3 linked regions of the Homo sapiens genome follow. The protein of the gene in region 1 interacts with the protein of each later gene in a biochemical or structural test. Each region holds a gene or a part of one and is shown in the gene's direction. Other genes may lie near its edges.

Evidence for each region.
Region 2: of the proteins of TMED10 (region 1) and FBXO7, one has a biochemical effect on the other in vitro, tested with the Homo sapiens proteins (one large-scale study listed by BioGRID).
Region 3: the proteins of TMED10 (region 1) and SEC23B interact in a test that uses a peptide from one of them, tested with the Homo sapiens proteins (one study listed by BioGRID).

The regions. Positions count from the first base shown.
Region 1 is NC_000014.9:75,166,506-75,170,159, reverse strand, and holds part of TMED10 (transmembrane emp24 domain-containing protein 10 precursor), read left to right. Parts: intron 1-3,654. UniProt on the Homo sapiens protein: Cargo receptor involved in protein vesicular trafficking and quality control in the endoplasmic reticulum (ER) and Golgi.
Region 2 is NC_000022.11:32,484,811-32,488,464, forward strand, and holds part of FBXO7 (F-box only protein 7), read left to right. Parts: intron 1-257; coding exon 258-399; intron 400-2,934; coding exon 2,935-3,018; intron 3,019-3,654. UniProt on the Homo sapiens protein: Substrate recognition component of a SCF (SKP1-CUL1-F-box protein) E3 ubiquitin-protein ligase complex which mediates the ubiquitination and subsequent proteasomal degradation of target proteins and plays a role in several biological processes such as cell cycle, cell proliferation, or maintenance of chromosome stability.
Region 3 is NC_000020.11:18,545,864-18,549,517, forward strand, and holds part of SEC23B (protein transport protein Sec23B), read left to right. Parts: intron 1-92; coding exon 93-170; intron 171-2,745; coding exon 2,746-2,907; intron 2,908-3,654. UniProt on the Homo sapiens protein: Component of the coat protein complex II (COPII) which promotes the formation of transport vesicles from the endoplasmic reticulum (ER).

The DNA.
Region 1 (3,654 bases):
GCTCCCCGGGGTTCACACCATTCTCCTGCCTCAGCCTCCCAAGTAGCTGGGACTACAGGCGCCCGCCACCACGCCCGGCTAATTTTTTGTATTTTTTGTATTTTTTGTATTTCACCGTGTTAGCCAGGATGGTCTCAATCCCCTGACCTCATGATCCGCCCGCCTCTGCCTCCCAAAGTGCTGGGATTACAGGCATGAGCCACCACGCCCGGCCGTTCCACTTTTTCTTATATTTTGACGACTGCTTCAAGGATTCTCCCTATGCATCATTTTAGCTTCTGGAGTGCAACTCCTAAGTGCCAGAGCTCCTTTTCATATGGTAGGCCACATTCTAGGTCTCAGTTCAGCCAATGGATTGTCTTGTCTTTGGTCATATTTCCACCCCTGCTTTAGGCAGCTGTGGTTTGATTTGAGGTAGGAGGAGAACTGGAGACTGGTGCAGAACCTGGCCAGCTGAGCTTAGCATTTGGTGGTTGTGCTGAATGAGGCAGTCTTTTTTTTGAGATGGAGTTGCGCTCTTTTTGCCCAGGCTGGAGTGCAATGGCATGATCTCGGCTCACTGCAACCTCTGCCTCCCAGGTTCAAGCAATTCTCCTGCCTCAGCCTCCCAAGTAGCTGGGATTATAGGCGCGTACCACTACTCCCGGCTAATTTTTGTATTTTTAGTAGAGACGGGGTTTCACAATATTGTCCAGGTTGGTCTCAAACTCCTGACCTCAGGTGATCCGCCCGTCTCCCAAAGTGCTGGGATTACAGGCGTGAGCCACTGTGCCTAGCCTGAGGCAGTCTTTCTTATAAGGGTCTCTGTGAATATAGTGCCTTGGTTAATCTGACTGATTCACCTTCTTTCTGTCTAGGAACATCTCAGTATCCAGTGAATGCACCTATGTTATCATATACCACTCTGTGTTGCAGTTGTGTATTTGCCCATCTCCTGGGATAAACTATAAGCTGCTTGAACAGAGACTAGGTTTCATTCATCATTGCAATGCTTGTCTAAAATAAGGCCTGGCACATAGTAGGACCTTATCCTAAGGAATTAGTGAACAGACGAGCAAGCACTGTCTTTGCCTCATCTCTGATCTTTCCCTCTTCCATTCTCTTTATTTGCTTCCTCCCACTCTGACTCTAGCTATACTGAACACCTTACAGTTCTTTGAATATAATGTTCTCTTTACCTGGATCAATGTTTGACTTTCTGTGTCCCCTATGTGTCCCATTGGCTTATAACTTCTTTTTTCCCCCTCACCAAAAGTTGTATGAAAAGATACTGTAGTACCATTACATCCTGTTTTACATGGCACTTTTCATGTAGTGTAGTGTTTACTTTGTGAACTCTTTAATGTCTTACTCATCTTTGTGTCTTTAGTTTAACGTACACATTGTTGTATAACTGAGTTAAACATCTTAGTCTTCTTGAGAAGCCTTGTGGTATGGTAGAGACTAGATCTGAAGTAAGATAGATTTGGTTCAGATCCCAGCAGCTCCACCATTTAAAGGTTATGTGGGTCTTGCAGGGATTACTTAACCCTTCTTCTCTGGTCCTGTTTCTGTAATATGGGAATCGTAGAGCTCATAAACTTGTTAGAAGGACTGATTGAGATGGGTGAGGTTTTTATTGTGCAGGGCCCATTATGGTGCTCCATAGATGTTAGTACTCTTTTCTTTCCTCTGTATTGAATGAAAATTGAATTGCTTCTCAGAGCCCCTCATGCTATATGTCATTGAAATAAGTAGATATGGAGTATTTTAATGAGAGGAATTATGAGTAGTTTGTGATTCTTTCATTCATTCAACAAATATTTATGTAATATTTAGTATGTGTCAGACCTGGCTGAGAATATGGGGATAAACGGGACAAGGTCCTCAAGCTCTTGTGGGGAACAAAGACAAAAAACAAGTTAAAATAATAGAATTTCAGGTAGTGATAAGCACTATAATGAAAGTTCAGGCACTAGGGAGTAGGGGGTGACTGATGGGTTAAAGGGTGTTTGAGTGGTCAGGGGAGGCCTTTCTGAAGCAGAGAGAGATAAATGGATTGAAATGATGGGTGGTCCTCTCCTGCAAAGATTTCTATTTCAGACCTATATTGAGATGCATTTTGTGTTAAGATCTCCAAACTGAGTCTATTCCATACTTCCCTACTCATTTCATAAAGTGAGGCTAAATCAGGCTAACTAGTGTCAGGTATAAAGACTTTGCTGCACATAATTGAAGCAGGAAGTATCAACTCGTCATTTACAGTGAATATAGAAGTTTCCTCCATTACTTCAGGTCCATAATAAAAGCCTGTTGTAGGGACTCAGAAATTTGGGTAATATTTTTATTATTATTTTGCTCTGGCTGGAGTGCAGTGGCATGATCATAGCTCGCTGCAACCTCGAACTCCTGGCCTCAAGTGATCCTCCCACAGCACTGAGATTACAGGCATGAACCCCTGCACCTGGCTGAAAATTTGGATCTTATACCAAGTTATGATTTCTGTCCTTCCCAACTAGCTTATAGATAAGAAAGCCAAACAGATCCCTTAAAGAGTTCAGCCTTGAATCACAGGCCTACCACAACTTAAGCCTAAAAATTATGAAGAAGTAACTTGGCAGTTGGGAAACTATTGGCTTATAACTTCTTTTTTCCCTCACCCAAAGCTGTATGAGAAGATACTATAGGCCAGGCATGAGGACAGAGAGGAGAGGGAGGAGGAAGGAGAAAAGGACAGTGGTGGGGGTGGGGGCGAGGAGGAGAAAAGAGAGAGAGGCAGAGGGGCGAAGAGGCAGGGGAGGGAGGAAGGAAGGAAAAGATGGTATATATGCTATAGTTTTCAGATTATTTTGTTTGGAATTACTGTATTTCAGCTTTTTTATTACTGGTATCTGTACTGAGGTCTGTTCTGTGCTGACAAGGAGAAAGAATAGGATGCTTCGGCTGGGCGTGGTGGCTCACGCCTGTAATCCCAGCACTTTGGGAAGCTGAGGTGGGTGGATCACGAGGTCAGGAGAATGAGACCATCCTGGCCAACATGGTGAAACCCTGTCTCTACTGAAAATACAAAAATTAGCCAGGCGTGGTAGTGTGCACCTGTGGTCCCAGCTACTCAGGAGGCTGAGGCAGGAGAATCGCTTGAACCTGGGAAGTGGAGGTTGCAGTGAGCCGAGATCACGCCACTGCACTCCAGCCTGGGCGACAGAGTGAGACTCCGTCTCAAAAAAAAAAAAAAAAAAAAGGAATAGGATGCATGTTGCTCAGTCATCGAAATGAACCATCCTTTTTATCAATAACGATCCCATGAACCCTTACTTATGCCAGACTTTTTCTGTAGGGAGAAATATGGCCCTTTCAGCGTGAATTTAACGTGACTGTTGTTCACTGGGTTAGAAACAGGTCAATAAATAGATGGTTCAGTACAGAAGGCTAATTGGTACATTGACATTTAATAATATAAATCGAATTTCTTTTTGTATTATATACAAAGTTCCTAGCTTTTAATTATAACTTGACCTTTGCGTCCTTCTCCATAAAAGTTAAAGGATACATTGCTTCATTTAAATCTCTCTTATTCAGTAAACAGTTGTCTACAGCCTTCCCTGTTTTGAACTGATCTAGAGAAGGGGGCTGCTTCCAGTTTGAAATTGCTACACCATATCTTTATGCTGACTT
Region 2 (3,654 bases), on another chromosome or scaffold:
TCAATCCCTGTTTCCATGATGCAGTTTTACCTATTTGAACAAAAATTTTGATTAAAAGTGTTCTAATATATTATCTTATACAATATGGTTATCCTACAATATAAAATATATTGGCAATGTTAATGATTTGATGCATTTTATTAAGAGGACTGTGTGGAGTGATTATTTCAAACAAGTTAGGAGTCTTTTGGATTTTTAATCTTTTTGAGAGTAACACCTTTCTTCATTATTTGTTTCCCTTTCATTTCGTTCCCCAGGGCACCGAAGCCAAAGCACTGTCCATGCCGGAGAAGTGGAAGTTGAGCGGGGTGTATAAGCTGCAGTACATGCATCCTCTCTGCGAGGGCAGCTCCGCTACTCTCACCTGTGTGCCTTTGGGAAACCTGATTGTTGTAAATGGTAATTGGATAGCATAGTCATGGTTGCTGGTTTATGGATTCTTAGACGTTTCTTTCCAAATGTTTTATAGCCACTTCAGTGATTGGCTATCATGATACAGTTGTGAGTCCTTCTCAACTGTATTTAATTCCTAGGCCACTGATAACATGTGTCTGGAAGATCATGGAATATGAGGTTGTTGAGTTGTTTAGGCCAGCACCCTTCATTCTTAGGGCATCCATTTTTTTGATGTCTTAATCTTTGTAATATTTTGCTCTGGGGGATAATATTTAATATTATCCAATATTATCAGTATTTGATAATAGGAGTGAAATGAGCCTATTACACATGAACTCCTTGGAGAATACTTTTTCTTTATGCCTGTGGATGGCTTTATTTTTTTAACGAAGGTCTTGAACTGAGACATGGGGAGCTAGACCTGGGGTCACCATTTATCCAAGTTGGCATCCCTGTGACCAGCAATGCACAACAACAATGCTAAGTTTACTGGGGCCTTAGTAAGTATGTGTTTTATTTGCTGGGCCTCCCCCAACAAATGTCACTCTGTATGAATAACTTTTCCTGTTTATTTTTCATATTAAGAAATTTCACTGGAATAGCAATGCATTCCATCTCTGTGTTTTAGTTCAGGTACCACTTTGTTTCATATCAACTCCTAGTGTTCTGTCATAATCACACATACTGGAGATCCATTTGAATGACTAGGAGCTTTCATTTTTGTTCTGTTTTGTTTTTTGAGATTTATCCTTTTAGTTAGAAAGATAGCGTGGTAAGATTGGGAGGGCTGCGTTTGTTGTTTTTTTATTCAGTATAGCTCATCTTTTTCGTTTAGCAAAGGCAGTTGCTTTGGTAAGCCTTAGGTCAAAGGTTTAGGTCAGAGGTTTTCAGTATGTTCTGTAGCTACTCCTTTCTGCTGAGATGAAAGTTAGGTAGAAGCCCTATCACCACTTAAACCTTGAGCAGCAAAATGTTTATCTGTTTCATTTATTGAAGTTCTGTGTAAGATTCTGTTTGAAAAAATGTTGGTTTTTTTTTTTCCTGCTAAAATCTATTTTGAAAGCTACTGACTCATGCCATCTTGATCTTTGACATGTTGGATAGTTCTCATTCCCCTCTTACAAAGTTTCTTTTTTCTTTTTTTTGAGACAGGGTCTTGCTCTGTCGCCCAGGCTGGAGTGCAGTAGGCAGAGCATGGATCATTGCATCCTTGACCTCCTAGGCTCAAGCAGTCTTCCTCCTTGGCCTCCTGAGTAGCTAGGACCACAGGCGTGTACCACCACACCTGGCTATTTTTTATTTTATTTTTTGTAGAGATGAAGTGTCACTGTGTTGCCCAGGCTGGTCTCAAACTCCTGGGTTTGAAGCAATATTCCTGCCTTGACTTCCCAAAGTGCTGGGATTACAGGTGTGAACCATGCCTGGCCTCTTACGAAATTTCTATTTCTTTAGTCATAAGATTCTTTGAAATGTTATTTAAAAGTCTCAAAACTAGGTTTAATAGCTTTGGTGGTACTTCACATTTGTCAGGACATGACTGTCTGATGACACTAGGACCTAGCAATGTCTATTCAGCAGTTCATCATAATTAGCAAATGTAGCTTTTACTTTGGCATTCTTGTACACAGAGTGTCAACAGTTTCTGCCTTCATCTAATCATTCTGCTACATCACATCATAACTTGCAAGGTTGGAGTTACCAAATAGTAAATGTGTAGTTGCAAATTTTGCCTTGATTTTTTATAAAAGCACTTAATGACGTGTATAATAACCTCTATTCACTAGATTCAGGATACTTAATATAAAAAGAATAACTGCTGAATGTCTTGATGATTTCCTAATTTCTGATGTTTTGTTTCTTTACTGTTCTTGGCAAATCAGCTCTTGGCAGACTTGCATGGCAGCCAGCCGTTCCAGGATTGATTCTTTGAAAAGGAGCAGTGTGTCTTTAAATCTTTCCTTCACCCAAGGCATCCTGCTTGGTGCACATGTGCATAAGCACATCACTGGGCTCTTTCATGGAATGAGATGAAGTGCGCCTTTGTATACATGATTAAAATTGAACCCTCTGGTGATGTCAAGTATATTTATCCTTTGGGTCTGGAAGAGAGATGATGCTGTGAAAACTAGCAAGATTATTTTAATGAACAAAGGAAGACTCATTGCCAAGGGTTAAATAAAAAATAAATGGAGTTTTTAGTGACTTCATTAGAAATAATGATTTTATTGTGTTTAGTTGCCTCTGATTAACCTTGTTGCATATCTTTAAGTTACTAATAAGCTGCTGCCTAGTGGATTTTATATAAAGATGCTTACTGTAGTTTTTAAAGGTGGTGTTGTAGAGTGATTTTACTTCATGTGATGCCAGGTTTACACTTTTGAACTTGCTATCAGAGAAAGAAATAGGCGAAGAACAGTTTGTTTTGTATAATGTGTCCTTAGTATATTAGGAGCTAGGAAATGCAAGCCCATACTAAAAAAGAAAGGCAGTTGATGAAGTGACAGAATTCTTTATCATCTTTCTTTTGTTTATTTACAGCTACACTAAAAATCAACAATGAGATTAGAAGTGTGAAAAGATTGCAGCTGCTACCAGAATCTTTTATTTGCAAAGAGAAACTAGGTAATACAAACATTATTTAACTTTTGGGGTGAAACTCTGTGAAATTCATATAAGAAAAAAATCTGAAAGATAATGTTCAAAAGACTGAAAATTTCTATATGAGATTAAAGCATATTGAAGACAATGTGGTTTGTTTAAGAATGCAAAGGTTTAAAAAATGTGAAAGTTTTGCTTATAATTTGAGGAGTTTGTTTCTTTCCTGTTTTTCTTAGGGTCATAGTGTGCTGAATTATATTGTTATGAGATAACACTAGTATGTAATTTATTACACTCTGATGATAGTTCATAGTTTCTGTACTAATCTTTGGAGATCTCCCTATTGAGATCTCCATATTGGTATTTAACCAATATGGAGGGGATCTGTGTTTCATGAAAGTAATTCAATGTCAAGTTCATTATTGAAGATTATTGGAGGAAAAACTACAATCAAAATGTTTGTTTAAACCTATATAAATTTGATGGCTATTTTATACAGATTGATACTTTACCAAAGGTTTGCATTCTAGGTAAGGTTTTGCTTAAACTCTATAAAATTATTAATAGATACAAAGAAGACAGGTTTTCCCTTTTATCATTTTTCAGTTAAACCAAACTGTGAGAGGCAGTTATAGGTGGTTGGAGCAGAAGAGATAAGGT
Region 3 (3,654 bases), on another chromosome or scaffold:
TAGTCCAGGAATATTTCCAGGTAATGCTAACTTAGATTTTTCTCTCTCTTTTTGTGTGTGTTTGTTTGTTTTTTGGTATTTTCTTTCCATAGTGTCAAAAGTTTGGACAGTATAACAAAGAAGACCCCACTTCTTTTAGGTTATCAGATTCCTTTTCTCTATATCCTCAGGTAAGTAATGTATGTTTCTAAAATAACTACAGAGCAATAAATTTTGATAGAAATTAACTTTATTCTTAGGGTAAAGTGAAGACTTTTTAATGTGTTGAGACTCAGTCTGTAGGTGACAGAGATTGTTCAACCCAAGTCGAATATGTGTCTAGGCAAGACAGCACCCTACGCCCTACAGAAGATAGAGATGACATGCAGAGGGGAGAAAACTCATGCATACATTTTCATGAACAGGCAAAATAGGATCATTGATATAAGGCCGTAAAAAATATCTCTCATGTGTAGAAGTTCTGGGGAAACAGCTACCTCAGCAACAAACCAAGAAAATGAGCACACATGGAGATGAAGATAACAAAACAAAACCACAGTTAGTACAACAAATATTTAATAATATGTCTGTGGTTATTATGTGCATCATAACCAGGAGTGAGCAATAAGCAGCTCCTGAAAGTAACTGCACTCTGCATGAACCAAGCCTTTGGAAGCCATTGGACAAGAGAGAGGAGCAGGAGAAGTAGATGAATTTCCGTCTCCATTGTAACTTAGGAAATAGAGCACAATTCATGGGTGTCTATAAGGATTACAGGAGCTGAGGCCAACTGAGTATTAAATATTTAGCACAATGCCAGTAACCTGTTCAGCACTAAATGTGACCTAGCTCCATAGCAGGTGCCTGGGACTCTGAGGTGTCCATGTGCCAGAGGTTAAAGCTGTGTGGTGTTGTGAGAAGAGCCCTGGACCGGCCAGAGTCAGGTTGAGGTTCCAGTGCTGGCTCCGCAGGGGCTGACCTTAGAGGAGGTTCCAAAGCCCCGTAGAGTTTGGTTTCCCACCTCTAGCAGTGGGGAGTTGGTCTGGTGAAGTGGTTTGCAGTTTTTTTTTTTTTTTTTTTTTTTTTTAAAGCCATGGAATCCTTTCTTTGAGAGGAGCTGCCCTTAAAAGCCAGCACATAAAGCAGACAGAGTTGGTGCTTCTCTGGTTGTGCCTGTGTACCACCCCCACACTGGGTCCCACCAGAGCCCTCATCCCTGGGCCCCTGAGGACTTGATGAAGACTCTAAGAGCACAGCTTGAAAACCAGATGAAATGCTTTCTCAGATTCCTTCTGTCAAGGCATTCTAGGAAAGAGGCCAACAGCCCAGTCTCTAGAGCCAGGCGGCCAGGTGTAGAGTCCAGCTGTGACACTCAGTAGTGGGGTGACCTTGGACAAGTTGCTCGCCCCTCTGTGCCTCAGTTTCCTCACCTGTAAACTAGGGATGGTAAGAGAACTTACCTCATGGGCTTATTGGAAGGATTAAATAGTTCTTGTCAAGTGCTTTGTGACTTGCATGTAGGATGTATTAGATGTCAGCCTTGATTATTATTTAGGAACCTATGATTGAATATTTGGAGTCTCAGGAAGCTTTACACTTCACAAGGCAGCTCATTTTCGTGTTCTGGCAACTCTTTAATGTGAGCTGAAAGTCTGCCCCCACCCCTTCTTCTCATCCTCGAGGGCGAGAACCTATGGTTGCAGTGTCATCCCTTGTCCCTTTCTCCCCTGCACCAACACTTCACCATCCCAGCTTGTGTCCTGAGCTGTCATCTGCTGTTCCTGTGCCTGGAATCCCCTTCCCCCTGGCCCTGTGGCCTCCTCAGCCACGTCTCTCAGGGTGCACTGTCAGTCCCCGGAGCTCTAGGAAGTCTCCTCCTGGCCCTCCACCCCCACTCCCCACTGCTATCCTGTACTCTGGCTCATAACTCGTAGCCCGAGTGTGCCTTTCTCACTGGGCCTGACTTCTGAGAGCAGATATTCTGTCTCCACTGCCTGGCACAGTGACTCTGGAAATAAACATTTCTTTGGCTTTCCTCTTAACTGTGGAAGCTTTGACATACCCAGAGGCCCTTTTCTTAAAAAAATTTTGTATTTTTTTAAAAATTTTTAATTTTTAATTTTTTTGAGACGGAGTTTTGCTCTTGTTGCCCAGGCTGGAGTGCAATGGCCTGATCTCAGCTCACCGCAACCTCCCCCTACTGGGTTCAAGTGATTTTCCTGCCTCAGCCTCCTGAGTAGCTGGGATTACAGGCGCCCACCACCACACCCGGGTAATTTTGGATTTTTAGTAGAGACGGGGTTTCTCCATGTTGGTCAGGCTGGTCTTGAACTCCCGACCTCAGGTGATCCGCCCGCCTCGGCCTCCCAAAGTGCTGGGATTACAGGCGTGAGCCACCACGCCTGGCCAAAGGCCCTTTAAAAAAAAAAATTAATTTTTAATGTGGTAAAACACACATAACAAAATTTACCATCTTAACCATTTTTAAGCATACCGTTGAGTAGTGTTACGTGTATTCCCATTATTGAGCAACTGATGTCTAGAATTTTTCACTTTGCAGAGCTGAAACTCTGTGCTCATTAAGCAACAACTCTCAGTTTTCCTCTTTCCCTAGCCCCTGGTGCCCCCTTATGCTTTCTGTTCTGTGAAACCAGAGAGCCCTTTTCTGGGTTCTCCTATTTCAGAGCCCTGAGGTAGATCTACTCTGTGGGTGTCTAAGAAGGTTACAATTATATGCATTTCTCTTTCCGTTCTTTGTGAATGCAGTTTATGTTCCATCTGAGAAGATCTCCATTTCTTCAAGTGTTTAACAACAGTCCTGATGAGTCGTCATATTACAGACATCATTTTGCCCGGCAGGACCTGACCCAGTCCCTCATCATGATCCAGCCCATTCTCTACTCTTACTCCTTTCATGGGCCACCAGAGGTGAGGCTCTACCCAAATGCTTTCCTGAGGATTGGAATCACCTAACATATATTCTTTTTTAAGCAAATTTACTTAGCAGAACTGTAAAAAAGAAGTAAAATTTGGAGTTTTTATAGTAATTTAACATTATTTCTATTAAAAAATACCTTTAGGAAAATGTCAAAGGACATATAAAGCTATTATTTGTGAAAGGCAGGAATAAATGTAAAAAACTCTAGGAAATAACTTGGATGCTTTCTTTTTCCTTGTGCTTGTATACTTACATCCAACAATTCCATGTCTTGTATCTGAAGGAAAGACTCCTAGATACAGAGTAGACTTTGTGCCAAAAAAAAAAATAGTAAAGGAACTACTATAATAGAGGATCAAATAACAATCCGAATGTTTAATATAGGAAAATAAATAAGTAACCTGAGAAATGCAGTTGACCCTCAGTATTCATGGAAGATTGGTTCCAGGACCTCCCTCAGATACCAGAATTCTTAGATACTCAAGTTACTAATATAAAATTACATAATATTTGCATGTAACCTTGGCACATCCTCCTATATACTTTAAATCATCTCTAGATTAGTTATAATACCTAATATAATGTAAGTACCATGTAAATAATTGTCATACTGTATGGTTTAGGGAATAATGACAAGAAAACAAGTCTGTACATGTACAGTACAGATGCATATTTTTTTCAAATATTTTCAGTCCAAGATTGGTTGAATTTATAGATGTGGAACCCACCGATACGGA